Linked DNA regions of Homo sapiens: region 2 is linked to region 1. The links come from fine-mapping of genetic effects on gene expression. A gene starts in region 1. The other region holds a variant in brackets. All regions are shown on one strand. Distances are between the middles of the regions. Region 1 holds the start of TMC2 (transmembrane channel like 2). Region 2 overlaps TMC2 (transmembrane channel like 2).

Region 1 (16,389 bases):
CTGGGGACTTTGCTCTCCTGGGCTCTGCTACCACAACACCAGGTTATCTCCAAAGGGTTGGTGATGAGCGATCGCACATCATAGCCTGGCTTAGTGCTGCTCTGTGGAATAGAAAGGAAGCCCTAGAGCCCAGTACAATAGAGAGAATACAGAAGAGGCTGGAGATGGGGCAGCTGACAAGGCGAGGGCCACATCTCTACCACCATGTGGCCATACCTTCGTGAGGCAGTGAAGTAAGGAACTTTGCAGCAGGTGCATTATGGAGCAGAAGAAAGGGGCAGGCTCATTCGTGCCTGGCAAAAGTGGGGCCCAGACGCACTGCAGGCCTAGGCACTGAGGCTGGGAGTAAAGTGATATGAGCAGGAATCCCACAGAGCGCTCTCCTAACTCTTCAGGGCTTTGGGGTGTTCTGGTTATGGTCATATTATCTCACTCAGTCCCCAAAGGGCTCTTGCAGGAGTTGTAGCAGAATTACCTCCACCCAGCAGATGAAAAAACGGAGGCAGAGAAAGCTTCAATAACTTGCTTATGGTAGTGTGGGGTGAAGAGGGGCTTGTCACCCATCTGATTTCAGCTGACACCTAAAAATGGGGTGTCCGATTTCAGCCGACATCTGAAAATGGGGGTTGACTTTGTTTAACACTTTTGCTTTGAGGAGCATTCCAGTTGTCCTTATCCCGTATGGGCAGAAGGAACAGAGCCCCTGAATCTAGGCTCCCTACTTTCTTTCCCTGACTCTGCCTCCTGGGGTGGTGGGGGAGAAGCAGACGAATAAAAAAACTATGACCCATAGTCACCAGCTGGCTGCAGTTCTCCTTGTGGGTTGTGTAGACCGTGCCTCTTAGTCTGTCTGGCTTATATCTGGCAGTAATCCTCCCCTGCCTTTGGAGTAATGGGGGGCCCTCAGGTCCCAGATACCTGGATGGGTCCAACTTCCTGCCTAAGAGTCTGAGATGGCAGAGACAACCTCAGCAGTTTCTCGAAAACAGGACCCTTCTGCCCCACCTTCAGTGCTGATCAAGAAAGGTCAAGGAACCAAGACTCTGACCAAACAAACTTAGAAGCACTGTTCATATTACACAACCCAAAGCTTTCAGGGACACACCGCTACCGTCCAGAATCCTATGGCCTCTCTCCCACCCTGTGCCACAAACTACCCCAGCACTGAGCTCATTGGTGTGGGTTCGTCGGTGGAGGGCAGCATCCTTGAGATAGCGCCAGCTCACGTTATCCAGCTAGGGTGTTAGCTGGCGTAACTGGATCCTCTCCATTGTGCCGGTTTACAACATTCTGTGAGCAACACTGGATGTTTTGTAAGCAGATACCCACAGCTAATTATATATATATATGTATATACTTCTAATTGGAGAGATAAATTAACAAGATGGCCCAAGAAGCTTCCCCAAATAAGGGCTTTGGGGACAAAAGCACCCCTGGATTTGAACGCCCTGTGACTTTTGGTGGAGACTGCACATGTTATTTTTGTTGTTGTCGTATTGGGTCCTGGGGTTTCATTTTCTCTGAGCAAGCCACATCCATGAAAGAGAATTAGCACAGAGTTCACCCTCCTCAGCTCCAGCAATAGGGACATTCACTATCCTGATAACATTAGGGCACAACACTCTGATATTATTAATTTTCAGAATAATGTTTGAGTTGCATGTCCAATAAATGTTACTCAAATAGTATTAGCTAAAGTATTGTGTTAAGAAGAATAAAGAAAAAGAAAAGGAATATTTCACAAAAAGTTAAAAACACATTTTTGTGTCACTTTTTTTTTTTCTTAAAAGTTGCAAATGTGTGAAATCAAGAGGTTTCCAGTTACGGACATGTCAAGACCACCATGAAGAAAAGGCAAATCTTGATGAGGCAAAAACCAAGGGCAGAGCAGAGAGGGAGTCTTCCCAGAGGCTGGAGTGCTCTGCTCAGACACCACACCCCACCTGGCAGTTTGCTAGGGTTATCGCTCTGCTAGGAAACATCATTCCAAGTCATATTGTAAAATGCTGGGTGGGCAGTGTGCCCAGGGGTCTGCCACATGTCCTGAAGTCAGCAGTCTTCATAGTTGTGCCTCAGGCAGGGGGGATAGTGGGAGCAAAGACAAAGAGAAGTTCTAGTACCTCGAATGAGAGCAAGTCACATCAGTGGGTAGGAATAGCTGCACTGAAAGAGAGAGGCAGAGGGGGCTGGAGGGTGTTGGAGCTCTCCGGGGCCTTGGATGGCACATTAGAGAGTCTGGGTTTTACCCCTAGGCCATGGAGTCCCAGCGAAGGGTTTTAAGTAGAGGGGAGATGAAGTCAGACCTCTGCTCTGGGGGCTGCCTTAGCTGCCATGCAAGAGAGAAACTGAAGGGCAGGGCCAGCAGCCCGGTGCCCAGGTAGGAGGCAAACACGGGGACCTTTGGAAAGGAGGATATGGTGTGGTCCAGGTTTTTCCCAAGAGGTCAGAAGAGTGTAGGGAATAAAAGCCTGGGCTCTGGAGTAAGAACAGTCAACAGGGCTGAATCCTGTCTCCAGGGACTGCTGGGACACATCACATCTAAGCCTCCATTTTTTCATCTGTAAAGAAAGATAAGACAATCTGCCTCAAATGGCTGTTGTGATGATTCAATAAGTCATTTAAAGGGGTTGGCAAGTTCCTGGCAGAAAGGCAGTGACAGGTAACTCTCAGCTGTGGCTGTCTTGAAGGGTGGGCTTCCTGAGTGTGCAGCCTGCGCGTGGCTGCTCATGGCTCCACACTCAGAAGCGCCCTGCACTTGGTCTAATACTGTGCTGAAAAAGTGAAAGTGAAATTCTTTTTTTTTTTTTGAGACGGAGTTTCGCTCTGTCGCCCAGGCTGGAGTGCAATGGCGTGATCTTGGCTTACTGCAACCTCCATCTCCCGGGTTCAAGGGATTCTCCTGCCTCAGCCTCCCGAGTAGCTAGGATTACAGGCACATCCACCCGGCTAATTTTTGTATTTTTAGTAGAGATGGGGTTTCACCATCTTGGCCAGGCTGGTCTCGAACTCTTGACCTTTAGTGATCCACCTGCCTCGGCCTCCCAAAGTGCTGGGATGAGAGGCGTGAGCCACCGCGTCCAGCCTATAGTGAAATTCTTAAGAATTTTATCTTTTGGGCTGGACATGGTGGTTCACGCCTGTCATCCCAACACTTTGGGAGGCTGAGGCAGGAGTACTGCATAAGCTAAAGAGTTCACGATCAGCCTGGGCAACACGGTGAGACCCATCTCTAAAAAAAAAAAGTTAATTGGGCCAGGTGTGGTGGCTCACGCCTGTAATCACATCACTTTGGGAAGCCGACGTGGGCAGATCATTAGAGGCCAGGAGTTCGAGACTAGCCTGGCCAACATGGTGAAACCCCATCTCTACTAAAAATACAAAAATTAGCCAGGCATGGTGGCACACGCCTGTAATCCCAGCTACCTGGGAGGCTGAGGCAAGAGAATTGCTTGAACCCGGGAGGCAGAAGTTGCAGTGAGCCGAGATCATGCCACTGAATTCCAGCCTGGGTGACAGAGTGAGACTCTATCTCAAAAATAAAAAATAATTTTAAAAAATTAAAAATTAAGGCTGGGCTTAGTGGCTCACACCTGTAATCCTATCACTTTGGGAGGCCAAGGTGGATGGATCACTTGAGGTCAGGAGTTTGAGACCAGCCTGATCAACATGGTGAAACCCCATCTCTATTAAAAATACAAAATTAGCCAGGCATGGTGGCACACTCCTGTAATCCTAGCTACTTAGGAGGCTGAGGCAAGAGAATCACTTGAACCTGGGAGGCAGAGGTTGCAGTGAGCCAGGATCACGCCACTGCACTCCAGTCTGGGTGACAGAGCAAAACTCTGTTTCAAAAACAACAACAAAAAAAAAAAATTAGCTGGGCATAGTGGTGCTTTTTTCCGGCCCCAGCTACTTGGGAGGCTGAAGCAGGAGGATGATTTGAGTCCAGGATGTTGAGGCTGCTGTGAACCATGTTCATGCCATTGCATTATAGCCTGAGCCTGTGAAGAAGAAGAAGGAAGAAGGAAGAAGGAGAAGGAGGAGGAGGAGAGAAGGAGAAGGAGGAGGGGGGGAAGTCTGATGGGACAATGGGGTGCGTACATGAGCAGAGGAGATAGGAACATATGCCGCCCTATTTGCGTATCCCATATATGATGCCCCATGAGCACATAATTCCAGTGGGCCCACGACGCATGGGAGTTTAGCAAGACTCAAAGCCAGTACAAGGCAGGGGTGTAATATCTGTGGTTAAATATGTAGGAATGCTTCCAGCCCAGAGGGGCTACACTTCCCATTTAATCCAGAACTTGCTTCAAACACTAAAAGAAGGCAGTGGTGTTCTAAGAAGCATGACAACTAAGGGACCCTATCCTATTCTTTTTCATTCAAGTTACTTCCCTGGATTAGCCAACCACGTAGGCTGACAATAATGACCCAGAAGAAAAGGAAAAGATAGAGAAACCCATAATTCCTTTTTTTTCCCAGTTCTTTTTCACTCATCAGTAAGCCAAAGGCAGGAAACATTGGTAGAATATGCACATACCAAGACGTGAAGTAAAACCATTGAGTTGGCTTTGTGCAGCATTTCTACAGTCCTGATAAGCCTGAAATCCTGCACATATACAAGCTACAAAATACAAATTGTGTCATTTCAGTGATTCCACATAGGAGTTAAGTACTCTTATACTTGCACTGAAACCTGTTATTGCTCGATATACAGATGAACAGTGGGATCCATGCAAATAATTTAAAATTTTGAGTTTTCTCAGAATGACGTTAAATAGTAGAAAGAGAAAGGCTTTGTATTTTAGTATCTTTAACTGTTCATTTTTCTTGCTTTTTGGACAAGGGACCCCACATTTTCATTTTCCACTGGGCCCTGCAAATTATGTAGGCCGCTCTGCTGCTTTTAATATTAACCCTCGGGCGGGGGGTGAGTGAAGACTGGGGAAAAGGCAGTCGAATCCTAATAGTCATTGGAGGCTAGAAGGACAGACATGTTATAGAATCCTTGCATTTGGTTCAGAGATACACCTTGGATTCTATGTCCAAGCAGATGGGCCAGCCTAGGGGTGCTCAGGCCTGTCCCACTCTCCTCTTGGACCTTGTCTCCCCCTTGGTCTAAGTGAGCATCAGCATCCCTGCTCCCACCTCCCCATGCCCTTCATCCCTACCAGCCTAGCTCCCTCAGTTCCCTCCCCAGCCTATGCAGGAGGACGAGCAGCTGCCTTTCTAGAAAAGGCAACATTAGGCCTGGTTCCCTAACAGCAGAGCCTGAGACGGGGCAGGCGGGGGTGGAGGGTGCTCTCAGGAGAAGAGGCAAGAAGCAGGACAGGGCAGGAGAAGGGGATGAGCAGAGACCCCACTGGAGTCCAGCTTCTGGCTCATCTCACAGGAAGCTCTGGGATGTGAATGACATCAATAAGTTGTTCCCATTTTTGACAGAGGCCGGGCTGTCATACCTCTTTGTTCATCCATCTGTGGCTGTAGGCTAATCCGGGGATGGTGATGGGATTACCTCAGGGTTCAGCAGCCCCTGCTCGGCCAAAGGCAATTCTCCTCCGTTGAAGGGGTCCGCTATGTGCCTTAGCCCTGGAGGATGGGTGCACTTGCTCTGAGAGGGAATCTGGGCAGATCACTGGCAGTGTCCACTACGGAATCTAACCCTGAACAACAAGGAAACCACAGCCCAGAAGTGACCTTCACAAGAAGGCACTTGGGGATTTAATGGTCAGCCCAAGTCAAAGCCACATATCCCAGCTTCCAGACCCAGACTCAATTGATCTCTTGTCACAGACCTGCCCAGGAGACACAAGGGCTCCGCGTTTTTTCATTTTCTTCATCTGACACATGGGAGTGACAACACTGTCTCACCGGGCTGTTGTGAGAAATAGAGAGGTTGGGGCAAGAGTGCCCCAGGCAGGACCTAGCACAGAGCAGTGTGCAACACACATGCCACGAGGATAATAGTTTTAAGACATCACTGTCGTTTTCTTTCTCACACTCTCTGATGTGAGACCTGCTCCCTCTTGCCTGAATGTGTATTCATCTCAGGAAGCATTGGAATTGATCTAGGTGGCGTGCAAAGAAAAAAGCAAAATACTCTGTGTTCAGTATCTGACTTCCAAACTTGGATTTTTGAATTCCTTAGAAATAATTGTGGAAAGCAGGGTTTGTTGTGAGAGAGAAGAAATCTGCCAATTCCTAGATCACTCCTTCAGACACCAAGGGCTAAACCCAGCCACCAGACAGCAAAAACACATCAGCCCCTGAGGACAAGGGTCTCTGTTTCATTTGCTGATGAATCCCCAGAGCCGAGAACTGACTCTGACCCCAGTGGGTGCTCATTTTTATCTGTGAGGAGAAAAGTGGAGTTATCGACTGTGTGGACAGTCAGGTACAAGGGAATTTGATAGTCCTATCTGGAGGGAATTTCTCTCCGGAGATGAAGGTGTTGTAGAAAGCCTTTCTCCTCTGGCAACAGAGAACAACAAGAGCAGGGTAAAGGCAGGAGGCGGAGCTTGCAGTGAGCCGAGATCGCGCCACTGCACTCCAGCCTGGGCGACAGAGCCAGACGCTGTCTCAAAAAAAAAAAAAAAAAAAAAAAAGAGCAGGGTAAAGGGCTGCTGGGGGTCCTCACTCATCAGGGGAGAGCGCTTGGGGCACCCCCAGCAGAAACCTTACTCACCAGTCCTCTGGGCCACGCTGTCCTGTGGCTGCACAGCTGCCCGTGCTGCTTCTCACATGGACCGGGGTCCTGCACTGGCATGGCCCTGGTGGGGAGAGGGATTTGCGGCTGCAGTCCTGCAGTATGGATGCCAGAGAATGCAACTGAGATCCTCCCACTGCCCTCATGCCCCGGGGACTGGGGCGGCCCTGCAGGAACCAGTTGGGTCGGAGATCAAGGTGTGGGACAAAGAGAAAAGCTTCAAAGCTTGAGATGAACCGTTGCACGTGCATTTTAGAGGTAGCTCCTTTGCCCCTTCCCTCGCCAAGCTTGCATGAGGACAGGCACTCCTACTCCTGACCCCTGAGAAAGTACATGGGCATGATCAGAGGCTAGGTCTGTCCTTGACACCCACAGGAGACTTGCCCTGGGGAAGGCTTTTTATTCTGTTGTGTCATAGAATCCTTTGGCATCCTGGTAAGGTCCGTAGACCCCTTTTTATATTTTTTTTTATTTTTGAGACAGAGTCTCACTCTATCACCCAGGGAGTGCAGTGGTGCAATCTCAGCTCACTGCAACCTCCACCTCCTGGGTCAAGCAATTCTGCCTCAGCCTCCTGAGTAGCTGGGACTACAGACACATCCCACCACGCCCGGCTAATTTTTGCATTTTTAGTAGAGATGGGGTTTCACCATGTTGGCCAGACTGGTCCGGAACTCCCAACCCTAGGTGATCCGTCTGCCTTGGCCTCCCAAAATTCTGGGATTACAGGCGTGAACCACCACGCCCAGCCACAGACCGCTTTTCAGAACATAGACATTAAATCCATAAAATAAAACACTAGGATTACAAAGGAGACCAATGATCCTGAAATAGGCATCAAAATCACTTTAAATATCTTTCATATAATGACAATATATGCTTCCTAATTAAATAACAAGATTTCATGGCAGGTCTCTAACTATCATAATTTTGAAGTTGTGATAACATGTAAGATATTTTGAGACATCCCCAGTGGTTTAATTGGGAAAAAAAATAACTGTGACTTTTGCTGAGACAAAAATCACATCTTTGCTTACATTCATGATTGAGGGAAATGCTAAATCGCAGTTAAGGCTAGGAAAAGTGAAAGTGTAGTATTTTCTCCATCACTATTCACAAACCCACAGAATTCCATCCACAGCTCTGGGGGTTCCAGGGACTCCAGATTAAGAACTCCACACTCTGAGACCTTATGACTGCCTTCCAGAGGGTCCCTCTGACACTTTAGTGATGGTTTTCAAAGCAGCCAAATCTGTGCCTCCCTGAAGCCAGGGAGGAAAAGCTGCTGAGGGAGGGGGCGGGGGCTGAGCGGGAACATTCATCTGTGTGGGCTCAGGACGCCTGCAGCAGGATCCACAGTGCAGGCTCCCAGGGCCTGGCACAGACTGACTGATTCCAACGCCCAGTGCCACTCCTGGGAGTATGCATTTTATTTTTAAAAATTTATTATTATTATTTTTCTTTTTGTGGAGATGGGGTCTCACTACGTTGCACAGGCTGGTCTTGAGCTCTTGGGCTCAAGCAATCCTCCTGCCTCTGCCTTCCTAAGTGCTGAGATTACAGGTGTGAACCACCACATGCCAGAATCTGCATTTTAAACAGAAGCCCAAGTAATAACTTAAACAAACATTCTAGAATTTCCCTGGTGCTTTGTCCCAATCAGGGACTCAAGATAGTGGGAGAGGGCCTGGGATGCTCCTCACACCTCCTCTGGCTAGAGTGCCAGCGGCATCATTGCCAGGAGATAAGCCTGCAGCTCCTGGCCCCTCCAGGGCCCCTCATGTATAACTGATGCCTGAAACATGAGGCCATGCTGCCTCTTTGCAGGGAAACCTGAGAAGAGGAGTGTGTGGCCGGATTGATGGGCCGGGAACTCGTCGCCTTCCTTCACCCGTCTCTCTCCCCCAAACTTCACCCACCTCCACATTCAATCTCAAACCAAGAAGCCCCGCCTGCTGTCAGGTCTAGGAAGGGAGGCCAGCCACCATGAGGGCAGGAAAGCAGCCCAGGCTGAAGGCGTGCATACAGGAGCACGCTGCGTGAGCCTGTGCAGGACCCCAGCAGTGCTGCTGACCATGAGCCACCAGGTAAAGGGCCTGAAAGAGGAAGGTGAGTCCACGTCCTGATCCTGCGGGGCCCGCCCACAGGGTTCCTGGGCAGCAGCAGGGGATGGGGGAAGCACATATGGTGTTCAGAGGCATAGGGAGGAGCTGGGTTTGAGTCCAGGGCCTGTCCCCTGTGCGCTGAGCGACCTCGGCTGGTTATTCAACCTCTCTGATCCTCACGCATGAGATGGGGGTAGTCATCACCTCCTTGCAGGGCTACTGGAAGGATTCAAGACAACCTGTGCACAGCACCTGTGTTCAGGCCAGCACTGGAGACTGTCACGGCCGATGCATGCTCCTCAGAGCCTGCTGGGGCGTCTCAGCCACCTATTGTCTCGGTTAGGGTTGCCTGTTCCGAGCAAGCCCCTCAGCAGATTTCTATCTGTCTCTGTCTCTGTGCAGGGCAGGGGGTGGGGGATGTTCTGACCTCATGACTGACAGTATCAGACAAATGTGACAGGCAGGGGACTCTATAATTTGCTGAGTAAAATCATTGGAGCTGGGTCCCAGTTTGAGGCAGCCACAAATCAGCTGAGGGGTCCCACAGTGACCGGGGGTCTGCAGGGAGGGGGACTCACCAGAGGCCAGCCATTTGTCAGCAATCCTGTCTCTTACAGCACGAGGCGGAGTGAAAGGGCGGGTGAAGAGCGGCTCTCCACACACAGGTGAGATGGGGTGGTGGGGTCTCTGGGGAGCCTGCAGTGCCTGGGTGCCCTCTGCTTAGCCCAACAGTCCAGCCACCCATCCAACATTCTCCTTCATCTCCTTCCCTCTCATTCAACACCCTGCATGGAGCCTTCCTGGGAGGCAAGGTGTTTAACATGGGAGGGGGCAGAGTACCACTCAGAGAAGGTGCTGCTCAGCCCTCGGTGTCAGGGGAGACTCCCAGGGTTAGTGACACTCTGAGCTGAGCCTTGGGAAGCAGTGAACATTCACCAGACAGAGGGCAGGGAAGCTCGGTGCAGGCTTCTGGCGGGTGGTGTGGCCAGATTCACATCCAGGCCCCCGGACTCTAGGAGGAACACTCTTAACCTCCAAAAAGTAGTAGGCATAATGGGTGCTCCATCACCTTCCCACTGGGAATGTGACCACAGCTCTCCCGTGAGCCGGTGAGGGAGCCAACTTGCTCCAGGAGAAGTGGGAGAGCCCAAGGAAGCCATAGGCGGGAGAGAAAACCCTTGGTTGAGACTGAGGGTTCAGGGGAGAGGGGCAGAAGCCACACTCACAGGCTGGGCATCTTCATGTCACAAAATATTATGGATGCGATGCTGTTTTCTCCCCCTTCACGTCCCAGGCAGGGCTGGGTCCTGCGCCCCACACTAGTAGGCAAGAAACCAGAATCTTGGGGAGTGATGGGGTTCTGGGGGGTTGGAAGAGATCTCCTTCCTCCCCCATTCTGGGAGGGAGGGCCCTTTCCACTCCCTCCTGTGGGAGGGCCCTGTCCTGGCCCCACTCTGGCCAGTAGGGAGCTGGCCCCAGGAGCCACTTCATCTGCCCTTTCCGCTCCTGTGACCCGCTGCTGTCTGGTTGTCGGGAGCCTGAGCTTCAGTGAGGCCGCTGTGTTACAAGGGGAGAGACCCAGGAGCAGGAGGCAAGGAAGAGCTGGGCAGAGGCTGGCAGGGGGTGCAGCCATGGCATCTCAACAGCCCTTCCTGGCCCCTATCCCGGAACTTGCCTCAGCCACTGTCCCTTCTTCCTACCCCACCTGCCTGCCTCATCCACTCTTTATCTCAATCCAAAGATGAAGGAGCAAATGTGAGAAAGTTCTATGCCCCAGGGTGGCCAGACGAGAAACCTTCCTCCCGGGGGTCGGGCCACGGTGCTCCCGTAGTGACCACTGCCTGTAGGATGCTCAGGCTGGTTCTCCACACCCCACTCCCCTCGTAGTCATCCAGATGCCGTCCCTTCCGCACCCAGCCTGGCCTCCCTCTGCCTCTGCTGCAGGGCTGTGCTGTGCGGGACTCCCCTGTGAGCAGTAGTCCTTAGTAGGACTGAAATGGAAGACCATTTTGCCTACAACACAAACCCTTTCCTACTGAAATATTCCACGTTGCCGCTGCCGTTTTCCCTTTCCCATAGAACACAGGAAATTGGTCAGAATTTTCACTTCACAGATCTAAGTGGTGAAGGGGTGCAGTAAAGTTAAACATTGGGAATATATTGAATTAACTGAAACCCAGCCCCATGAAGGTTTCCATTTTAAATCTCCTCTGGAGTCACCTGCGACGGGACCTGATATTCTCATCCTTCCCTTTATACTCTACCAGGAGGGAATAAAAGTTTAAGAATACAATGTTCTTTTCTCAGAATAGCTACAGTTTGTTACTGTGTTCCTTGAAAAGAAGGATGAGAACTCTCCCTCCTCCTGTATCATTTGGTAAGTGCACTGAACTGTTGAGATCACGGGACTGGAGGGCTGCCGCAGCCTCTCCTCGGCCTGTGTTTTGCACTGTGAATTCTCTGACCGAGTCAGGTGCTACATAGGAGGAGGCCTGTTACATTTAGGAGAGCGTGTGCTGGGCTTGGAGGCCTTCCTAGCAAGACAGCTGCCTTTCCAGTTCCTAAATTATGCATTATGTGGAGTCTGTTGAAAACTGATTATGAAAGAGAAAAAAACAGCTTATTTTCTGTGTTGAAGAGGTCTGGGGAAGATTGAAGGGCAAATTCTGGCTTGTTTTCCACATTCCATGTGAATTTCGTTCAGTTGGAGAACTAAATTACAGCAGGAATTACAGCTCAGAAAAAAAATTGTAACACCAAATTATATCTACAGTGCTGGGAAGTATGCTTGGTACAGTTCATTACCACAATGAAAACCATTGTATTAGCTGACTGAGGACACAGAGAGAGCTCAGAAGAGGATGCAAACAATGACGTTCCTATTCAGTCCTTTCAAGCAACATAGAGCTGATCTTTATGGGACCCCAGGGAACCCTTCTCCATGATCCCTTGCCTTGATCTCTGCTTCTCTGCCCTTTCTGAGCACTGAACTCAGTCCTAGAGCTCTCTTAGGGGTCATGGCTGTGATAATATTTGTTTTGCTCCGTCCCTTTTGCAACAGGGGGCTACTGCCTTCCAGAGCATTGCGCTGGAGCATTTGTAAGACAAATCATACCTCACTGGCTAACACTGACTAGCTTCCTACCCTGGATAAATTATGCAAAAATAGTCTTTCTTTACGTTGTCTTATCAAAGACTATTTTTCCACAGGGAGTGAGAAGAAGAAAGAGGTTGGGGCAGGAGTGGGCTAAGGAAACCTGCTCTATGATAAATACAGGACAGGTTCTCTTAGCTCACTCCCGCAAATAGCACACAAGACTATTCTTTTCTTTTCTTTTCTTTTTTTTTTTTTTTTTTGAGATGGAGTCTTGCTCTGTTGCCCAGGCTAGAGTACAGTGATGTGATCTCAGCTCACTGCAACCTCTGCCTCCCAAGTTCAAGTGATTCTCCTGCCTCAGCCTCCCAGGTAGCTGGGATTACAGGTGCCTGCCACCACGCCCAGCTAATTTTTTGTATTTTTAGTAGAGACCGGGTTTCACCATCTTGGCCAGGCTGGTCTCAAACTCATACCTCGTGATCCACCCGCCTCAGCCTCCCAAAGTGCTGGGATTACAGGTGTGAGCCTCCGTGCCTGGCCGCAAGACTTTTCAATGCACCTATGCCAGTTATCTCATCAGTCCTGGCAGAAACCTCAGCATTTAAAACCGAGTCTCAAAGACATGGACATGGCCGGGCACAGTGGCTCATGACTGTAATCCCAGCACTTTGGGAGGCTGAGGTGGGGAGATCACTTAAGGTCAATAGTTCAAGACTAGCCTGGTCAACATGGTGAAACCCTGTCTCTACTAAAAATACAAAAATTAGCCAGGCTTGGTGGTGCATGCCTGTAGTCCTAGCTACTTGGGAGGCAGAGGTGAGAGAATCGCTTGAACCTGGGAGGCGGAGGTTGCAGTGAGCCTAGATGGTGCCATTGCACTCCAGCCTGGGCGGCAGAGAGGGACTCTCAAAAAAAAAAAAAAAAAGACATGGAGATTATTAATGATGGCTTCAGACCCATGTTTGGTGCCTCTTTTTGCCTTTAAAATAAGTGAAGCAATCACAGCCAGTATGCTCACAAGACCTTCCTTGTAGCAGCTGCAGAGCAGTGTCACCCTCCCCACATCACCTTCTTCCATGTTGCTAGTGTGACCCTTTGATGTAGACCTTGCCCCAGCAAACATGCTCCATTATCACACCCTTACCCTCCAGATTTCAACCCAGCTCCCTGTGGGCGTGTACCCCTCTCCTCCTGCCTCCCACACCAGAACACACCCGGGACGCAGCTCTGCCTTGGACGCCTATGCCCCAGACTCCCTGGCATTTCTGCTGGGGCCCCTCAATCCCCTGTTTCCTCTGCCTGGAATCCTCCTAACTTGCTACCACAATCACCCCCTCCATTTCTCTACCCACTTCTTCTCTTGCAAACTCCTGTTCATCCTTCAAGATTCAGAGTAGCCCCTAAGTATGTATTAAAGACTTCATGGTAATTATTTTTAATTGAGCTGTAAAATATTCCACATAGTAGATAAATCACAGGTTAATTCATTATTCTATTACTGAATATTTAGGTTATTTCCCATTTTTATAATAGAAATAATGTTGCATTGAAGATTCTTGGGCTTGGGTTGACTCCTACAGGTGGAATTAACAGATCAGAAAGTATTTTTAGGCTGGGCATGGTGGCTTACGCCTGTAATCCCAGCATTTTGGGAGGCCGAGGCAGGCGGATTAATTAAGGTCAGGAGTTTGAGACCAGCCTGGCCAACATGGCAAAACCCCTTCTCTGCTAAAAATACAATAATTAGGCAGGTGTGGTGGCACACACCTGTAATCCCAGCTGCTCGGGAGGCTGAGGCACAAGAATCTCTTGAATCTGGGAGGTTGAGGTTGCAGTGAGCCCAGATTGCACCACTGCCCTCCAGACTGGGCGACAGAGCAAGACTCTGTCTCAAAACCAAAAAAAAAAAAAGAAAGAAAGAAAAAAAAGAAAAGAAAAAAGAAAGTATTTTAAAGCTCTTGTTACATGTTGCCAAACTGCATAAAGAGTTGCTTTACAATTTATATTGCGACCAGTAATAAATATGCATTTTAACAAGTCTCATTAGTCCTGGATAAAAAATTTTAAAAACGTAATACTATAAACAAGACAGGAAATCCCATTATTGACTTATTTTAAATTTCCTTTGATAACTAGTAAAACTGCATTTTCCGCCGTTTCCTAATTGCATTTCCCCATTAGTAACTTACCTGTTCATAAGTTTTGCTTAACGGTCTTTGTGTCCTCCCCCATATTGATATGTGAGTTCTTTCCATTAGTCTCATGTTTGATTAAAAAATTTTCTTATTTGAAAAAAACTTCAGAGTAAATGTTGGAGAGGAGAATTTTTTTCCTCTACCTTCCTAGGTTCAGTGACTACAGGCTCTGTAAATCAAACTGACAAAAGACAGATCAACAAGAGGGGAAAAAAGGATTGAATTACATATGTACAAATGAGAGTTCACAAAGAAGATGACTCAAGGAGGTGGTTAGAATTTGGGGCTTATATACTATCTTAGAGGTATATATCATCTTAAAGGGTGATAGAGTGTGGAGAAGAAGCTTGACAAAGGAAAAGCGTTTTGGGGCTTCTGGGTAAGTTATGGAAGGTGACTAGGAAACGTGTGGTAAATAAGTGTTATTCAGTAAGGTTTGTTAAGCAGGTAAGAGTCTTCTCAGGTGCTAAGAGTTGTCTCTGGAGTAGTTATCTTCCAAGTATAGGAGAGGGAGACCCCTTCCAAATGGAAATATATGTCCTGCTTTTAGTCCAAAAGGGCAGAGGAGCGACATATATCTAATTGCCTTCAGCTTGAAATAATCTTTATGCCGAAGTGGCATATTTTGGGATGGCGTCTTCTAGTCTCCTTCATAAACATCAGTTCTTTGTGAAGCATTTCCAACAATCCCAGCCATAATTTATCACTCCCTTTTTCTTTCTATATTTTTACAGTCTTTTCTCTTTAGTCCACAATTTTTTTTTTTTTTTGACAGAGTCTCGCTCTGTCACCCAGGCTGGAGTCAGTGGCACATCTTGGCTCACTGCAACCTCCGCCTCCCGGGTTCAAGCAATTCTCCTGTCTCAGCCTCCCGAGTAGCTGGGACTACAGGCGAGCACTACCACGCTTGGCTAATTTTTATATTTTTAGTATTTTATACTTAGTATATTATATTTAGTAATATACTTAGTATTTAGTATTTTGTGTTTTTCTTTTTAAAACAAAATACAAGGCCAGGCATGGTGGCACACACCTGTAATCCCAGCACTTTGGGAGGCCAAGGTGGGCGAATCACTTGAGGTCAGGAGTTTGAGACCAGCCTGGCCAACATGGTGAAACCCTGTCTCTACTAAAAATACAAAAATTAGTCAGGCAAGGTGGCATACACCTGTAATCCCAGCTACTCAGGAGGCTGAGGCAGGAGAACTGCTTGAACCTGGGAGGTAGAGGCTGCAGTGAGCCAAGATCTTACCACTGCACTCCAGCCTGGGTGACAGAGTGAGACTCTGTCTCAAAAATAAAATAAAATAAAAACAAAACACATTTATCTAAGTTATTGTCCAAAGCTGGCTCCCTAACACCCCACAACCTGTTGATAAGACAAAACCGATCTATTGCTTATAGCAGGCAAAGCTTTGGCAGTATCTTACAGAGGGGAAGGAAGGCCGGAACTTACTGAGAATTGGAAATTTGATTGAAGGCAGGTCTTTCAAAGTGAGAGCTGGAATGAGACTGGGTGAGAATCACAACATAATAGTCCACAATAAACAGCATGGCCAGGATTTTGAGGTGAGGCATTCAAAGAATCTTAGAGCCCAAATTGAAGAATTGACAGGTCTTTGGGAAAATCCTGTAATGAACAATCAACATTTGCCTGGGTAGGAGATGCCTAGAAAAATAAAGACATGCTCATGAAGCAGAGGCGTAGCACAAAGTCATCTTAATACAGACACTAAGGTATAGCTGGGCTCTCTGTGTCCAGACTCAGTATGAGGGAAGATGGTTTGAGTTCTCAATTTCTCCTTGTGGTCATTCTTCAGCCCAAGCTGAAGGAAAAGCCATCAGTATGTCAATCTAGATATTCACCAGTATTTGAGAGGTCATCATTTCATATCAATTGTCTGTTAACAGTTGTTTCACATCCAGTTTCTGGTGGCAGCTGTTTCAACCTGCATGTCAGTTTTTTTTTTTTTTTTTGAGACAGAGTCTCGCTCTGTCACCCAGGCTGAAGTGCATGGCATGATCTTGGCTCACTGCAACCTCCACCTCCTGGGTTCAAGCGATTCTCATGCCTCAGCCTCCCAAGTAGCTGGGACTACAGGCGCTCGCCACCATGCCTAGCTGATTTTTTTTTTTTTTTTTTTGTATTTTTAGTAGAGACGGGGTTTCACCATGTTGGTTAGGCTGGTCTCGAACTCCTGACCTCAAGTGATCTGCCTGCCTTGGCTTCCCAAAGTGCTGGGATTACAGGCATGAGCCAACGCACCCAGCCAGATTTTCCAG
Region 2 (16,389 bases), 89 kb after region 1:
TTCAGCCAAAGACTTTCAAGGTGCCAAGGGCTCGCTGCAAGCCACTGTCCAATTCTCTCAATTGAAGGACTTCAAATACTCTTCTGAGCAGCAATGCTGTTTTATGGAAACCGAGGAGAAACAGGCAGGAGACCGTATAATTTGCTAGATGCCTGGGGGCGAGTCAGTGGTAAAATCTTGGCCAGAGCTTAAGCCAGGAATGCTCGGAGTGCCTCCCTCTCCTGAGGACTGCATGGTTCTGGCTTGATGATCGATATTCTGGTTAAATGGGAGGCCCCTTACCTGGGGACTTGCCAGGAAAGCAGCTCGGCCTCATGCCCCTAACCCATCCGTCCCATTTCCTTCTATCACCCTTCCCTCGCCTTCCCTGCTGTCCAGCCAACCAGGTGTTTGGTTTCTGCCATTCCAGGATGGGCTCCTTCTATGCTCCAGGCCTGGTGGGCATTAATGTGCTGCGCCTGCTGACCTCCATGTACTTCCAGTGCTGGGCGGTGATGAGCAGCAACGTACCCCATGAACGCGTGTTCAAAGCCTCCCGATCCAACAACTTCTACATGGGCCTCCTGCTGCTGGTGCTCTTCCTCAGCCTCCTGCCGGTGGCCTACACCATCATGTCCCTCCCACCCTCCTTTGACTGCGGGCCGTTCAGGTGCAGAGTCTCAGTTGCCCGGGAGCACCTCCCCTCCCGAGGCAGTCTGCTCAGAGGGCCTCGGCCCAGAATTCCAGTTCTGGTTTCATGCCAGCCTGTAAAAGGCCATGGAACTTTGGGTGAATCACCGATGCCATTTAAGAGGGTTTTCTGCCAGGATGGAAATGTTAGGTCGTTCTGTGTCTGCGCTGTTCATTTCAGTAGCCACCAGCCACCTGTGGCCGTTGAGTGCTTGAAATGAGGAACTGAGAAAATTAATTTCTCATGTATTTTTCTCATTTATTTATTAATTTTTAACTGATAGTTGTACATATTTGGGGGTACATGTGATATTTGGATACATGTATACAATATATAATGATCAAATCAGGGTAACTGGGATATCCATCACATCAAACATTTATTTTTTATTCTTTTTAGACAGAGTCTCACTCTGTCACCCAGGCTGGAGTGCAGTGGTGCCATCTCAGCTTACTGCAACCTCTGCCTGCCAGGTTCAAGCGATTCTCATGCCTCCACCTCCCAAGTAGCTGGGACTACAGGCATGCACCACAATGCCCAACTAATTTTTGTATTTTTAGTAGAGACGGGGTTTTGCCATGTTGCCCAGGCTGGCCTTGAACTCCTGGCCTCAAACAATCCACTTGCCTCGGCCTCCCAAAGTGTTATGATTACAGGCGTGAGCCACCGTGCCTGGCCTAAACATTTATCTTTTCTTTGTGTTGGGAACTTTGAAATTATACAATGAATTATTGTTAACTGTCATCTCCCTGCTGTGCTATGGAACACTGGGACTTCTTCCCTCTATCTAACTGTATATTTGTACCAGTTAACCAACCGTACTTCATCCCCACTCCTCTCTATCCTTCCCAACCTCTGATCACCTCATTCTACTCTCTACCTCCATGAGATCCACTTTTTTAGCTCCCACATGTGAGTAAGAAAATGCAATATTTGTCTTTCTGTGCCTGGCTTATTTCACTTAACATAATGACTTCCTGTTCCATCCATGTTGCTGCAAATGACAGGATTTCGTTCTTAATTTCAATTAAAATAACCACACATGGCTAATGGCTACCATATTCGACAGCACAGTTCTACCCTTTTAACACATGGATAACTTACTACCTGGGATTACTTTACCATAGGATAAGTAATGGTGGATATTCTGAGGATGAATTACCATACACTTACACGTGCCGTTTAAATGTGAAGCAGCTGCAGTGGACTCTTGACAGACCTCAACTGAGCTCTCTGCTCTCCAGAGCATTGGCCTGGGGGTTCAATACATAAGTCAAGCTAGTTGGGAGACTAGATATTGTATAAAAAGACAAATAATTATGTAAGGAGGTAGATCAAGAGATAATGTGCATCTACTGTTCTCTTTCCAAATGCCTGACCTTCTGAAAACAAAGCCCTCTGCCAACTCCGTAAAGAGAGGTTCTGTGGTTAAAGCAGTTTAGGACGTACTGCCCCTTCTGTCTGCCATTATCTCACTTAGAAATGCTCAATGCACACTCCTTTGTTAAAGGCTCTGAAGAATCATGCAATGAGGTAACACCTGTAAGCTAGTGTCTCCGTCCTTATTGACCACAGAACCCTTTCTGCATGGATCACTCATCCAGGGCTGGAAATAGGGTGAGGCAGGTGAGTGACGCCCTACACTGCACATGAGCAACCCTGAGGGCATTACTTCCTTAAATTGTGCACTCAGGGCCTCACCCGCCTCACTCTAGTCCCAACCCTGCCTGCCAATGAGGAGAAACCCTGTCCCGTAAAAGGGTCGTATATGCAAAACAGCCCCTAAATGCCCAAAGAGCCTAGAATCCAAAGGAGGAAGGAGACAAATGCAGTTTGTCGGCTTTGGGTGATTTATTAGGGGTAACTTACAGTCAGATGCATGGTCACAAGCAGCCGTGAGACAGGTAGATCTCCACACCTCAATCCCCCAGGCCCAGGGCTTCTATCTTGGGGAAAGTATGCGTGCTCTGGAAGGAATGTATAGGTGGCTCTGAACATCACAGCCTGTGATTTCTGCAGCAGCATCAAGGGTTGTTTTGGAGGAAACTTTATGTAGGAATAAGAGTTCCTACATAAAGAGTAATACATCTGCTAGTCATGTGGGAGGCACTCTCAGACTCAGGGTTAGTTAGAAGTTACAAGGCAGATTAGCATGTAAAATAAAGTCACTCATGTCCCGCACAAACACACTTTGAGAAATGCTGATCCGGTCTTTCTCAGTTCATAAAGGACTTTACTAGATAAAGGCCTGTGATGGTTGGAGCCCAGGGATGTTAGCAGGAGTGTTCCAGCAGGGTGTGATCTGGAAAACAGTGTTCACACAGAAGGAGGGGATCAGTCTAGAACAGAAGGAATGTGCTGAAGTGCAGATGGCCTAAGATTTAGCCAGGCTGAAAGGAGAACCGAATGGAAGAAGCCTCTGTTGGCTTCTTCCTAAGCAAGGTTTGGAGGGCTGGGCCCTGGGTGCAAATGCCAGCCCCCTTTTTCTCAGCTTCCCATCTGTCACTGGGTAGGAGGTCAGCAGGGACAATTATACTATGATAAGAACCATCTCCTACAGTTGTATGGAAAACTGAACTTATAAGAAAGGAACTTGGCTAGCCAGGCATGGTGGTACGTGCCTGTAGTCCCAGCTACTTGGGAGGCTGAGGTGGGAGGATTGCTTGATCCCAGGAGGTGGAAGTTGCAATAAGCCATGATTGCACCACTGCACTCCAGCCTGGGCAACATAGCAAGGCTCTGCTTCAAAAAAGAAAAAAAGAAAAGAGAAGAGAAGAAAAAAACAGAACTTGGGTATTTAGCTGAAGAGATTCCCAAGCAAAGTATTGAAGGTACAGCCTGGTTTCTTCATGCTGCTTATAGAAAATGTGCAAGGAAAGAGGTATGTTGAGTAAGTAACTGATAAACAAGAAAGTACCAGGATTTGATGATTCTGGAAATTCTCAGCCTTATCTAGATTGCAAAATATGCTAAAACTAGATTCACTGTCATGAGAATGTGCTGTAAAAAGAAAGCCAAGAGTGAGTCTGGATAACCTTTTGCTAGTGTTTCTGAAAGATCAAAAGGTCTGAATATCATTCACACAGAAAACTCTGACTAATCGTGTGACTAATGCATCGCCTCAACCATCACATCAGAAGTCAGGAATAGAAATAGGATTATCCAGAAAAGATCATGTGGGACTCTCTTCTTTAACAGAGTACATTCTCATGACATACATGAAAAACTCACACAGTTTTTGACAATATTATATCAGCGGAAACATTACCAACTTGGACTGAAAGAAACAGAAAGAAGACAAAATAAAGGCAGATCATTGGCCTCCCAGAATTCTGTGGCGGGAAACAGACTGATAAAATTTACTCAGCTGAGACATGTGCTATCCTTCAAGAAGAAGGAAGGGTGGAAGTGTTCTTCCAAGGGCAGAACTGTGAACCCACAAGGGCAAAGCTATGGGCACAGTAGGGCAGAGTCTGCAGCCCAGAGGATTATTCTCAGGACTTTAAAACTTAATGGAGCTTGGCTGATTGGATTTCAAAATTGCTTGGAACTGGTGATTCCTTTCTTCCTTCCATTTTCTCCCTTTTGGTAATGGAGTGTTTACAACTTTTATCCTATGCCTGTCCCACCATTTTATTTTTGAGAGTAAATAACTCATTTTCTAGTTCCTAGAATCTTGAGATGGGGATATCATCATGGATTAGCCAGGTGGGCCCTAAGTCACAAGTGTTCTTATAAGAAGGAGGGAGGCCGGGTGCAGTGGCTCACGCCTGTAATCCCACAACTTTGGGAGGCTGAGGCGGGCAGATCACGAGATCAGGAGTTCAAGACCAGCCTGGCCAACATGGTGAAACCCCGTTTCTACTAAAGATACAAAAAATTAGCCAGGTGTGGTGGTGCGTGCCTGTAATCCCAGCTACTCGGGAGGCTGAGGCAGGAGAATCGCTTGAACCCGGGAGGTGGAGGTTGCAGTGAGCCAAGATCATGCCACTACACTCCAGACTGGGCAACAGGGTGAGACTCCATCTCAACAACAACAAAAAAAAAAAAAAAGGAAGGAGAGGGAGGGAGATTTGACTACAGAAAAATAGAAGGTGATGTGACCATAGAAGCAGGCAGAGATTTAAAGATTCTGTGCTGTTGGTTTTGAACATGGAGAAACCCCATCTCTACTAAAAATACAAAAACTAGCCAGGCGTGGTGGCAAGTGCCTATAATTCCAGCTACTCGCAAGGCTGAGGCAGGAGAATCACTTGAACCCGGGAGGCAGAGGTTGCAGTGAGCCGAAATCATGCCACTGCACTCCAGACTGGGCAACGAGCAAGACTCTGTCTCAAAAAATAAAAAATAAAACCCCTAATGGAGCTTGGCTGATTGGATTTCAAAATTGCTTGAGGTTGGTGATTCTTTCTTCCTTCCATTTTCTCCTTTTTGGTATTGGAAAGTTTATAACTGTTATCCTATGCCTGCCCCAGGTTAGTTTCAACCCAGTGAATCCCTTTCAGACTTCTGGCCTCCAGAACTGTAAGATATTAAATTTGTATTGTTTTAAGCCACCAGCGTGACAAACAGCAGGCACTAGAATCTGATACACCATCTAATTCAACGACAAAATAATCTACATTCAACTGTCACATAAAAGCCTAACACGTAAACTTAACTTTTCTCATTTGTACATGGCGGGTATGCACTGGAAATAAAAATAATAATAATAATAAATGAAACATTGTCATACAGTGATGTGCCTGGCACTTGAAATGCCATCATGCTATAACTGCGTCATTGCAATTTGTGGTGTGCTGGGCAACAGTTGTAAGCAATGAGATGGCCACAAATGGTCTCTGACACAACTGCTCTTCCCTGTCATTATAGCACAAAAAATGAGTGAGCATGGCTGTGTTCCAATAATACTTTATTTACAGACACTAAAATTTTAATTTTATACTTCAATTTTTACATGTCACAAAATAGTATTCCTGTTTTGACTTGCTTTCAACTACTTAAAAATGTAAAAATGATTCTTAGCTCACAGACCATATGAAAACAGGTGACAGACTAGGCGCAGTGGCTCACACCTGTAATCCCAGTACTTTGGGAGGCCAAAGCAGGTGGATCACCTGAGGTCAGGAGTTCAAGACCAGCCTGGCCAACATGGCGAAACCCCGTCTCTACTAAAAATACAAAAATTAGCCGGGCGTAGTGGTGCCTGCCTGTAATCCACCAGGCATTGTGTGTAAACTCTGGAGGCTGAGACAGGAGAATTGCTTGAAACCCAGAGGCAGAGGTTGCAGTGAGCTGAGATTGCACCACTGCACTCCAGCCTGGACGACAGAGAGAGACTCTGTCTCAAAAAAAAAAGAAAGAAAGAAAAGAAAAGAAAGAAAAAGAAAACAGGTAACAAGCTGAATTTGTCCATGAGCCATTGTCGGTGAACTCCTCATCTATACTTTACACAGAAAATGTTTAGCTGCAAAATTTTGAAGGGCGCTTATAACTTAACAGCACTACACTCAATGTTTTATATCAATTCTCATCTATATCCTCTAAACAATCTTCTGAGATAAATACAATTATTATACTTAAAATACCATATTATACTATAGTATTATTATACTACATTATACAGATGGGGAAACTGGGGCAGAGAAATTTTCAATACCTTGCCCAAAGGTATTGAACTTCTGCAGATATTGAACATCCAATAGAACTTACTGTAATGATGAAAACATTCCATATCTGCATTTCTAACACAGCAGCTACTAATCATATGACTATTAAGCACTTGAAATGTGTAACTAAGAAACTGAATTTCAAATTTGACTTCATCTTAATTTTTATTTTTAATAGCCACATCAGACAGCACAGCTTTCGTGGGGAGAACCAGGGCATGATATGAATACAAGCAGAAAGAGAATAATTGTCAGGCCGGGCACAGTGGTTCACGCCTGTAATCCCAGCACTTTGGGAGGCTGAGGTGGGCGGATCATTTGAGGTCAGAAGTTTGAGAGCAGCCTGGCCAACATGGTGAAACACCATCTCTACTAAAAATACAAAAAATTAGGCAGGCGTGGTGGCGCTCACCTGTAATCCCAGTTACTTGAAAGGCTGAGGCAGGAGAATTGCTTGAATCCGGGGGTGGAGGTTGCAGTGAGCTGAAATTGTGCCACTGCACTCAAGCCTGGGTGTCAGAGTGAGACTCCATCAAAAAAAAAAAAAAGACAGAGAGAGAGAGAATAATTGTCCACGTGTCTCACCAGTGATAAATGGGGGATCAAGGATTTAAACCAGGAATTTCAAACCCCGTATTCCACCTCTTGGCACCAAAATTATCAACCAAGAGCCAGCAGCATCCAGGAGTCTCTGGGCCAGCATTTGTAGAAGTAAATCTGCATAATGGTTCTTAGGTATTTGAAGAAAATAAAAATTACAGTTGTGAACTGTCCAGGAGCCTGTCCTAGGTGATCCAATATCTCCTAGACTTAAAATCTGAAGGTTAATTCTAGGTATTTCTGAGAGACACTCAGGTTGTCCAGCACATCAGCTTCTGCAGAACTGTTTCCCAGGCCCAAAGGAAGCTCCATGTTGGCCTGGTAGCTACAAACACAGACAATTTCTCCAGTTAGAATACATGAGGAAAACCATTTTTTTCTGGCTGAGGAAGGTGTCAGACACAAAAGACCAGTGAAGGCTAAGAGGTTGTAAGTTACTTAGGATAGAAAGCCGGTGAGCCGTGTGCCGACCCAGCTGTCACCCTAGCCAGAATGGCAGCCCCTCAGGGGGAATTTTTTACTTGCAGTTCATTTGGAGCAGAGCTCTGGTTCTTCCAGGAAAGCAGTGGCAGGCAGCAGCCCTGGACCTGGGTAGGGGGGCCATGGACACAGCTGTGAATGCCACAGGCACATGGCAGCATGTTATATTGTGTCCTCTCCTTTTTCCAGTGGGAAAAACAGAATGTACGATGTCCTCCAAGAGACCATTGAAAACGATTTCCCAACCTTCCTGGGCAAGATCTTTGCTTTCCTCGCCAATCCAGGCCTGATCATCCCAGCCATCCTGCTGATGTTGTAAGTTAGCCAGGACCCATGGCTCCACCCCACGGAAACTTCTCCTTGAATTTGAGACTTCCTTGGCAGGTCCTTTTCATCTTGCCTTCTTAGTCTGCACTCCCCAGAAGCAGAATCCATGACAAGGATTCAAGTGTAAGTATTTTATTAGGGAGGGGGTGAGGACTTGAGACAAGGAAGGGAAAGGAAAATGCATGGTTATCACTGTGAGAATTCTGGGAGGCAGTGTGCCTCAGACTCAGCCCTCCCTAAGGGCAAAGGATCCGAGGCATTTATAGACCAGCTCCCAGCGTCATTCATGGGTAAAATGGCTTCAAGGGGTGTGAGTGAGGGGTCCAAGAGGGAAGGGAAGCTTCTGGTAACAGAGATGAGGGCACCAGCAAGTGCAAGTCTTTTGGAGCACACTGAAAATTTGGGTGAGCCCTGACAGTATCTGCAACAACTCCCACTAAAATGCTCACTAGAAATATCAAAGTCCTGTGGGCTCTGAGCCTATCAGGAAGCTGAACGGTGATTCGGCCTGATCCTGGCTGGGCCCACAGCACTACTCGATGGAGCAGCTTATACACTGGAACAAGCTGGTTCCTTCATCACTGTCCCCCTCAACAACCATTAGAGAACAAGTTCGAAAATCTCTGTATCCCCGGTGCCAGCCTAATGCCTAGAGCATAGCAGGCAAACAGTAAATGCTCAAGGAAAGAACTAGGGAAGAAAGGCAGGAAGCCAGAGTCTTGGATTGGAATTGTTGCCATCAAAAAATGTGCTAGTAAAAATGTTAGCATTTTTTCTTTATTTAAAAAAATCTTATTTTGGCATGCTTTTTTAAAAATTATGAAATATTCCCAGCATACAAATGAGTACAGACAACCATGTACACGATCACAAGATTCAACAGA[T/C]GTTAACATTTTGCAATATTTACTTCAGGTTTATCTTTCTTCGTAATAGAAATAAAACATTACAGATGCACTTCAAGCCCCACTCAATCCTTCTTTCTTCCTCCCTCCCCAAAGGTAACTATTATACAGACTAGATTTAATTATTTCCATGCATATTTTGTACTTTTTAATCACATGTGTGTATAGTACTGTTTCCGGAGTTTTAAACCTTTTCATGAATGACTCACATTACATGCTTTTCCTCAAACAACATTATGTTGGGGGATTTATCCATGCGGATACATGAGCACATGTTTGAAGGCTCTACTATGTTCCATCTCATGAATAAGCCACAGTTTATCCATTCCTCTGCATAGGGATAGTTAGGCTGTTTCCACTTTTCGGCTATTGCAAACTGCGCTCCAGCCAACATTTTGTATATATCTCCTTGCACAATTCTGAGAGTTGCTCTAAGGTAGACATCTAGAAGCAGAATTGTGGGTCATCAGCATGTGTTTCTTCAATCTTTTTAGATCTTACAGAATTGCTCTCCAAAGTGGTTGTATTCCCTTTGGACTGTTATTTATAAATTCCAACTCTCCGGTGAAATTCTCCAGCTTTCTATTTTCTTGAACATAGTGGTTATAATTACTTTTAAAATCCCAGTCTGATATTCCAATATCTGAACCACCTGGGTGTATTTTTGTTGTCATTTGTTTTCCTCTTGTTTATCCTCAGCCCTACTTTTATCATGGCATGTAATTTTTACTAGATGTCAGACATGTGGATGAAAAATTATAGAGGCTGTGAATAATGTTATCTTTCCCCAAAGGGATGGGTTTTTTTTCCTGAAGGGCAAATGGAATACTAGGAGATCACTTAATCCTGTCAAGACTTGATGTTTTAGCTATCTATTATTACATAAGAAACAACCCCCAAAACTGAAAAATAATATTTTATTAATGAATCTGCAATTTGGGTAGGACTTAGCAGGAATCATTCTTTTCCTCTCTACTCAACATCATCTGGGTCAGCTCAGCTGGAGGCTGGAGGGCCCACTTTCAAGATGGTCACTCACATGACTGGCCAGCTGGCACTGGAGGCCTCACTTCCTTCTCACAAGCTGCTTGGGCTTCCTCATAGTATGGTGGCTGAGTTTCAGGAGCAAGCATCCCAAGAGAATGCAGTGGATATACATGGCATCTTTACTTACTCCTGCCATACTCTATTGAAGCAATCACAAAGGGATACCCAGGTTCAAGAGAAAGAAATATAGACTTATCTTTTGATGAGGCAATGACAAGATTCTAGAAGCACATGTAAGACAGGAGTCATAGTATTGTGGCCATCTTTGGAAAATAGTTTGCTATTGCTAGCTTTGGGCTTTCTCAGGGCTGATTTATTTCAGTTTTGCCCTATTTCCAAGACACTGACCTTACTCCTACAATGTGATCCTTACTATTGAGCACAGTCTTTTAGGGGTCTCAACTGAAAGCCTACAGTGTTTACCAATTCCCTCCTGTGACAGTTACTACGGGACTGAACGAAGTAGGACGAACACAGAAATGAAGACAAAGAAAAAAAGGATTTGTTTTAAAGAACGGGTCAGGGGACTCCTTGCTTCTAGTGAGCAAAGGCAGCCCTGAGCTTCTGCAGCCCTGAGCTTCTACAGCCCTTCGTATTTATTGGGTAGAAAGAGCAGGGAGGAGGAGGTAACGATTGGTCAGCTGTTTGATTGATCACGGGTTCACATCATTGCTAACAGGCCTCAGATGTGCCTAACCACAAGAAACACTGTGCCTGGGGCGTGACTGCCCTCAGCATTCCTTCTGGGTGCCGACATAGTTGTCAGCTTGCCAACATCCTGCATTCATGAGAACAGCTTGCTGTTTACTCATATAGCCTCCAGTCGTATACTGAGTTGATCACGACCCTCATTCTTTTGGCCTCCACCACCCTCCACCTTGGCAGGGCTTAAAACCCATTCTCTCTTTTCCCAATTCTTCCGTCTTTGCTTATTCTTTTTCTCCAGTAGTACTGCTACAGCCACTGTGAAATCTCTGCTCTGCTCTTCAGCCTCTCTGGTGTCATTTTCTTCTGGGCTTCCTGAAGCAATTGAAGAATTGGTCAATCATTTGAGGGCAATTTGTACACAGAGTTTGGCTTATTTATCTGCAATTTGTTCTTCTCTGGGATTCTGCCCCTCAAGTCCCAAAGACTGTGGCAGTAATTAACTCTGACCTGCATCTTCTCCACATTGTAAGATTTCCACTTTCTGCTTGGACTCTGCTTCTGGGTCACAAATTGGAAAATACTCTCAGGGAGAAACCCTGGAGGAATGTGGAGCTCACCTCACATGCTTCCCTTCTCTCAAGCATCAAGTCCCTTTAGTCTGCCTGTCACTCTCCCATGTCTTAAACTACAGTTTTGTAAATTTTGCTCAGCATTTACAGTTGTTTTTCTCTGGAGAGCTGGACCAATACAAGTCCCTTAGTCAAGACCAGAAAAAGAAGTCTTTTCTTTCTTCATTTGATTTTCCACAGAGGCAGGCTCCCTAGCACCAAAACAACAACAAAAATAATCTGTGATCATTTTTATTAGAATTCAGAAAGAAGGCCGAGCATGGTGGCTCACACCTGTAATCCCAATACTTTGGGAGGCCGAGGTGGGCAGATCACCTGAGGTCAGGAGTTTGAGACCAGCCTGGCCGGCATGGTGAAACCCCATGTCTACTAAAAATACAAAAATAAGCCAGCTGTGGTGGTGTGTGCCTGTAATCCCAGCTACTTGAGAGACTGAGGTAGGAGAATTGCTTGAACCCAGGAGGCAGAGGTTGCAGTGAGCCAAGATCATGCCACTGCACTCCAGCCTGGGCAAAAGAGCGAGACTCTGTCTCAAAAAAAAAAAAAAAATCCAGAAAGAATTGGCACACCTATGTTGTTAAGTTTTCCAATCCAAGAATACTGTATTCCTTATCATTTTTTCATTTATGTCTCTCAATATTTTTAAGTTTTCTTCATAAATTTCATGCACATTTCTTATTAAATGTATTCCTCTGCATTTCTCTTTTTGTTATGATAAATTAGGATAGCTCTTTCATCATACTTTCTAACTAGTTTTTGTTTTTCTATGTAAATGTTATTTATTTTCTATATATAAATTTTGTATTCAGTCACTGATATAGTTAGGCTTTGTGCCCCCATCCACATTTCATCTTGAATTGTAATCCCCATAATCCCCACATTTCAAGGGCGGGGCCAAGTGGAGGTAATTGGTTCATGGAGGCAGTTCCCCCCGTGCCGTTCTTGTGATAGTGAGTGAGTTCTCACAAGATCTGATGGTTTTATAAGGGGCTCTTCCCACTTTGCTCGGCACTTCTCCTTCCCGCCACTTTGTGAAGAAGGTGCCTTGCTTCCCCTTCACCTTCCACCTGTAAGTTTCCTGAGGCCTCACCAGCCATGCTGAACAGTGAGTCAATTAAATCTCTTTCCTTTATAAATTACTCAGTCTTGGGTAGTTCTTTATAGCAGTATGAAAACAGGCTAATAAGGCCGGGCACAGTGGCTCATGCCTGTAATCCCAGCACTTTGGGAGGCCGAGGCGGGCAGATCACGAGGTCAGGAGATCGAGACCATCCTGGCTAACACGGTGAAACCCCGTCTCTACTAAAAACACAAAAAATTAGCCGGGCGTGGTGGCGGGCGCCTGTGGTCCCAGCTACTCGGGAGGCTGAGGCAGGAGAATGGCGTGAACCCGGGAGGCGGAGCTTGCAGTGAGCCGAGATCGCGCCACTGTACTCCAGCCTGGGCGACAGAGTGAGACTCCATCTCAAAAAAAAGAAAACAGGCTAATACAGTCACCCTATGAGTGTATTGTTTATCATATTTACTCAACCAAAGTTCTTGAATCTTCCAGGTCATTTTCTCATTTGTAAACAATGAAAATGTTATATTTTATTTAATTCTTAGATCTCTTTTTTTCTCTGTAGGATTAATTAGTACCTTCCATGGGAAAAACAAGTTAATTAATATTTGGTGATGAAATATATTTTTGTATTTTTCCTGCATTTACAGGGTGGGGAGTGCTTTTAATGTTTTCAGTTAAGCACAGTACTGCTTTTTTGGAGAGTTGAGATAAGTATATTCATGAAATAAGGAAGAAAACAACCAGGGAATGTAAGTCATTGTAACATAGGTATAAGAAATCAATAATTAGGAAAGTGGAGTAACTTTTCTAATTATTGATTTCTTACAGAAGTAAAAAAAAAAAAAAAAAAGTGACCTCAAAAGGTGGTGGTGAATTTAGGGCCATTACTAGCCCATATAGTACCTTGTGCAAATTTTTTAAAGGTGCCCACTCCTTCAGACGGAGGTAGGCCCATGCCAAGGGGCACATTTGACAAACAGAATATGGATAGATTTCAGCCAGCAGTCACCCCCTTAGTCAGGTGCCTTTTATGCAGTAAACAGCCTGTATAATGGCTATCTAAGCCAGAATCTTTTTCCTTTGGTGTAGACCAGGGGTCATCAAACTGTAGTCCACAAGCTAAATCCGGACCACACTTGATTTTGTTAAATAAAGTTTTATTGGAACATATTCATGCTCATTCATTTATTTATTATCTATGACTGTTTTTCACAGAAAAAGACAGAATTTACTTGTTGTGATAAGGAATGTATTGTCTAGAAAGACTAAAATATTTATTGCCTGGCCCTCTGCAGAAAAAGTTTGCTGATCCCTAATGCAGACAATAAGGAACCACTTTCAAATATGCTTTGACACTGAACTTAAAACACCTAATCAGTAAGACTTAAAAATAATGACAAATAATAAGTCCAAAAAATATTTAGAAGAAGAAGGAATTAGGATTGTAGAAGACAATAAATCTTGAACTTGAGCCTTGATAAATTCAAGGCTCAGGAAAAGGAGTCGATTGCATTGGATAGAACTTTTAGAGTTGTTCAAGTCTACTATTTTCTTGTTGACCTTCTAATTGTTTCTATTACTGAAAGTAAAGCATTGAATTTCCAGCTATTATTATTGGATTGTCCATTATCTCTCCCTTAAATTCTGTTTTTGCTTCGTATGTTTTAAGGCTGTGTTGTTAGGTGCATATATGTTTTTACTTATTACATTTTCTTGATGAAATGACCCTTTTACAATTACAAAATAATCCTATTTGTCTCTAACAATTTTTGTCTTAATGTGTTTCCCATCCTTTTACTTTCAATCTACTATTACCTTAAAAATCTGAAGTGTGCATTTTTTGGCTGGGTGTGGTGGCTCATGCTGGTAATACCAGCACTTTGGGAGGCTGAGGCAGGAAGATTGCTTGAGCCCAGGAGTTTGATATCAGCCTGGGCAACATGGCAAGACCCATCTCTACAAAAACTTTAAAAATTAACTGAGTGTGGTGGCACATGCCTGTAGTTCCAGCTACTTGGGAGGCGACAAAGGTGGAGGATTGCTTGAACTGAAAAGGTTGAGGCTGCAGTGAACCATGTTTGTACCACTGCATTCCACCCTGGGTGACAGACTGAGACCTTCTCTCTAAATAAATAAATGAAATAAAATATAGTGTGCTTCTTTGGAAAAGCATATAGCTGAAGCATAGTGTTTATCCATTCTGTCAATCTGTGCTTTTTATATGGAGTGTTTGATTCATTTACATTTAATTACCAATAAGTTAACATTTATGTCTGCTGTTTTCTATATGTCTTATGTATTTTTGTTATTTTATTCCTCTATTACTGCTTTCTTTTGGGTTAAATATTTTAGTACATAATTTTAGTTCCCACGTCATTTCTCTAACTATATTTTGTTTTAGTTATTTTCTCAGTGATTGCCCTGGAGATTATAATTAATATAACAAACTACTTTGAATTAATACCAACTTAATTATAATAGTATACAAAAACCTTGTCCCTGTACAACTCCATTCCCTCCACTCTCCTTCAGGTTGTTTCTGCCACACAAATTACATCTTTATACATTTTATGCCAACTGAATAAGACAGGAGAAAAAAGAGCTACAAAGACTACATTGATACTAGCTTTCATGTTAACCCATGTAGTTACCTTTACTAGTGCTCTTTATTTCTTCATGTAGATTCAAGTTACTGTCTAGTGTCCTTTCGTTTTAACCTAAAGAGCTCCCTCTAGCATTTCTTACAGAGTAGGTCTGCTAGTGATTACTTCTCTTGGTTTTTATCTGGGAATGACTTAATTTCTCCTTCATTCTTGAAGAACAGTTTTGCTGGATTTAGAATTTTTGGTTGATAGTCTTTCTCTTTCAATCTTTCAAATATGTCATCCCACTGCCATTTGGCCTCCATGGTTTATATGAAAAAACAATTGACTGTTAATCTTTCTGAGGCTTTCTTGTATATGATTATTTGTTTCTCTCTTTCTGGATTCTCTCTTTGACTATGGCTGTTTTTTTTTTCAATTTGCTATGATATGTCTAGGACTAGATCTCTTTGAGTTTATCCTGCATGGAATTTGTTGAGCTTCCTGTGTAAATTAATATTTTTTCATCATATTTGGGGATGAAATCTGATTAAAAATAGCCATTATTTATTCAAATATTCTTTCTGACCCTTTCTGTCTTTCCTCTCCTCCTCAGATTCCCATTAGGCATGTGTTGATACATTTGCTGTTGTCCCATAGGCTGTGTTATTTTACCTCATTCTTTTTTCTTTCTGTTCCTCAGACTGGATAATCTCAACTGATCTATTTTCAAGTTCATTGATTCTTTTTTTTTTTTTTCGAGATGGTGTCTCACTCTGTCACCCAGGCTAGAGTGCAGTGGCATGATCTCAGCTCACTGCAGCCTCCACCTCCCAGGTTCCAGCGATTCTCCTGCCTCAGCCTGTCGAGTAGCTGGGATTACCGGCATGTGCCACCACACCTAGCTAATTTGTGTATTTTTAGTAGAGATGGGTTTCACTATGTTGGCCAGGCTGGTTCTTTCTTCTGTCATCTCAGATATGTTGAGCACCTCCAGAAAATTTATTATTTCAGTTATTGTAGATTTCAACTCCAGAATTTCTATTTGGTTATTTTATTTATTTCTTTTTGCTAATATTCTTTATTTGGTGAGACATCATTTTGATACTTTCAGTTCTTTAGAAATGGTTTTGTATCGTTCTTTGATCATATTCTTTGATCATATTTAACATAACTGATTTAAAGTCTTTGTCTCTTAAATACAGCATCAAGGTTTCCTCAGGAATGGTTTCTATTGACTACTTTTCCCCCTGTGTATGGGCCAGGCTTTCTTTTTTCTTTGTATGTCTTACTAGATTTTTGGGGTTTTTTGTTTTTGTTTTTGTTTTTTTACAGAGTCTCACTCTGTTGCCCAGGCTGGAATGCAGTGGCGAGATCTTGGCTCACTGCAACCTCCACCTCCTGGGCTCAAGCAATTCTCCTGCCCCAGCCTCCCGAGTAGCTGGGATTACAGGCGCCCGCCACTATGCCCAGCTAATTTTTTGTATTTTTAGTAGAAATGGGGTTTCCCCATGTTGGCCAGGCTGGTCTCGAACTCCTGACTTTGTGATTCACCCGCCTCAGCCTCCCAAAGTGCTGGGATTACAGGCGTGAGCCACTGCACCCAGCCATGTCTTACTAGTTTTTGCTGAAAACTGGATATCTTAAATAGTATTATATGGCAGCCATGGAAATCAGGTTCGCCTCCCTTCCATGGGTTTGTTGTTGTTGCTGTTTGTTGTTATAATTGTTGTCGTTATTGTTGTTTAATAACTTTTCTGAACTAATTATGT

What was found. PIP is the estimated chance that this variant, and not a neighbour inherited with it, causes the effect.
Region 2: its variant is fine-mapped to the expression of TMC2 in lung (TOPMed, PIP above 0.99). The same link has a PIP of 0.9 or more in breast, esophagus mucosa, esophagus muscle, gastroesophageal junction, skeletal muscle and subcutaneous fat.

Annotation. Positions count from the first base shown.
Region 1 is chr20:2,527,838-2,544,226 of GRCh38, forward strand. TMC2 (transmembrane channel like 2) reads left to right here and starts at 8,736. Exons shown (of 20, transcript NM_080751.3): 1 at 8,736-8,818; 2 at 9,432-9,479. The coding sequence starts at 8,785. It overlaps LOC105372504 (a long non-coding RNA gene), which reads right to left and starts at 15,775. Exons shown (of 3, transcript XR_937204.3): 1 at 15,563-15,775; 2 at 14,101-14,287; 3 at 6,691-6,773.
Region 2 is chr20:2,616,663-2,633,051 of GRCh38, forward strand. TMC2 (transmembrane channel like 2) reads left to right here. Exons shown (of 20, transcript NM_080751.3): 16 at 410-649; 17 at 7,609-7,734. It overlaps LOC105372505 (a long non-coding RNA gene), which reads right to left. Exons shown (of 5, transcript XR_007067502.1): 3 at 2,540-2,637; 4 at 1,844-1,923. Among named protein-coding and RNA genes, the nearest start is that of NOP56, 28 kb to the right of the region's middle. The variant T/C (reference allele first, on the strand shown) is at 8,631.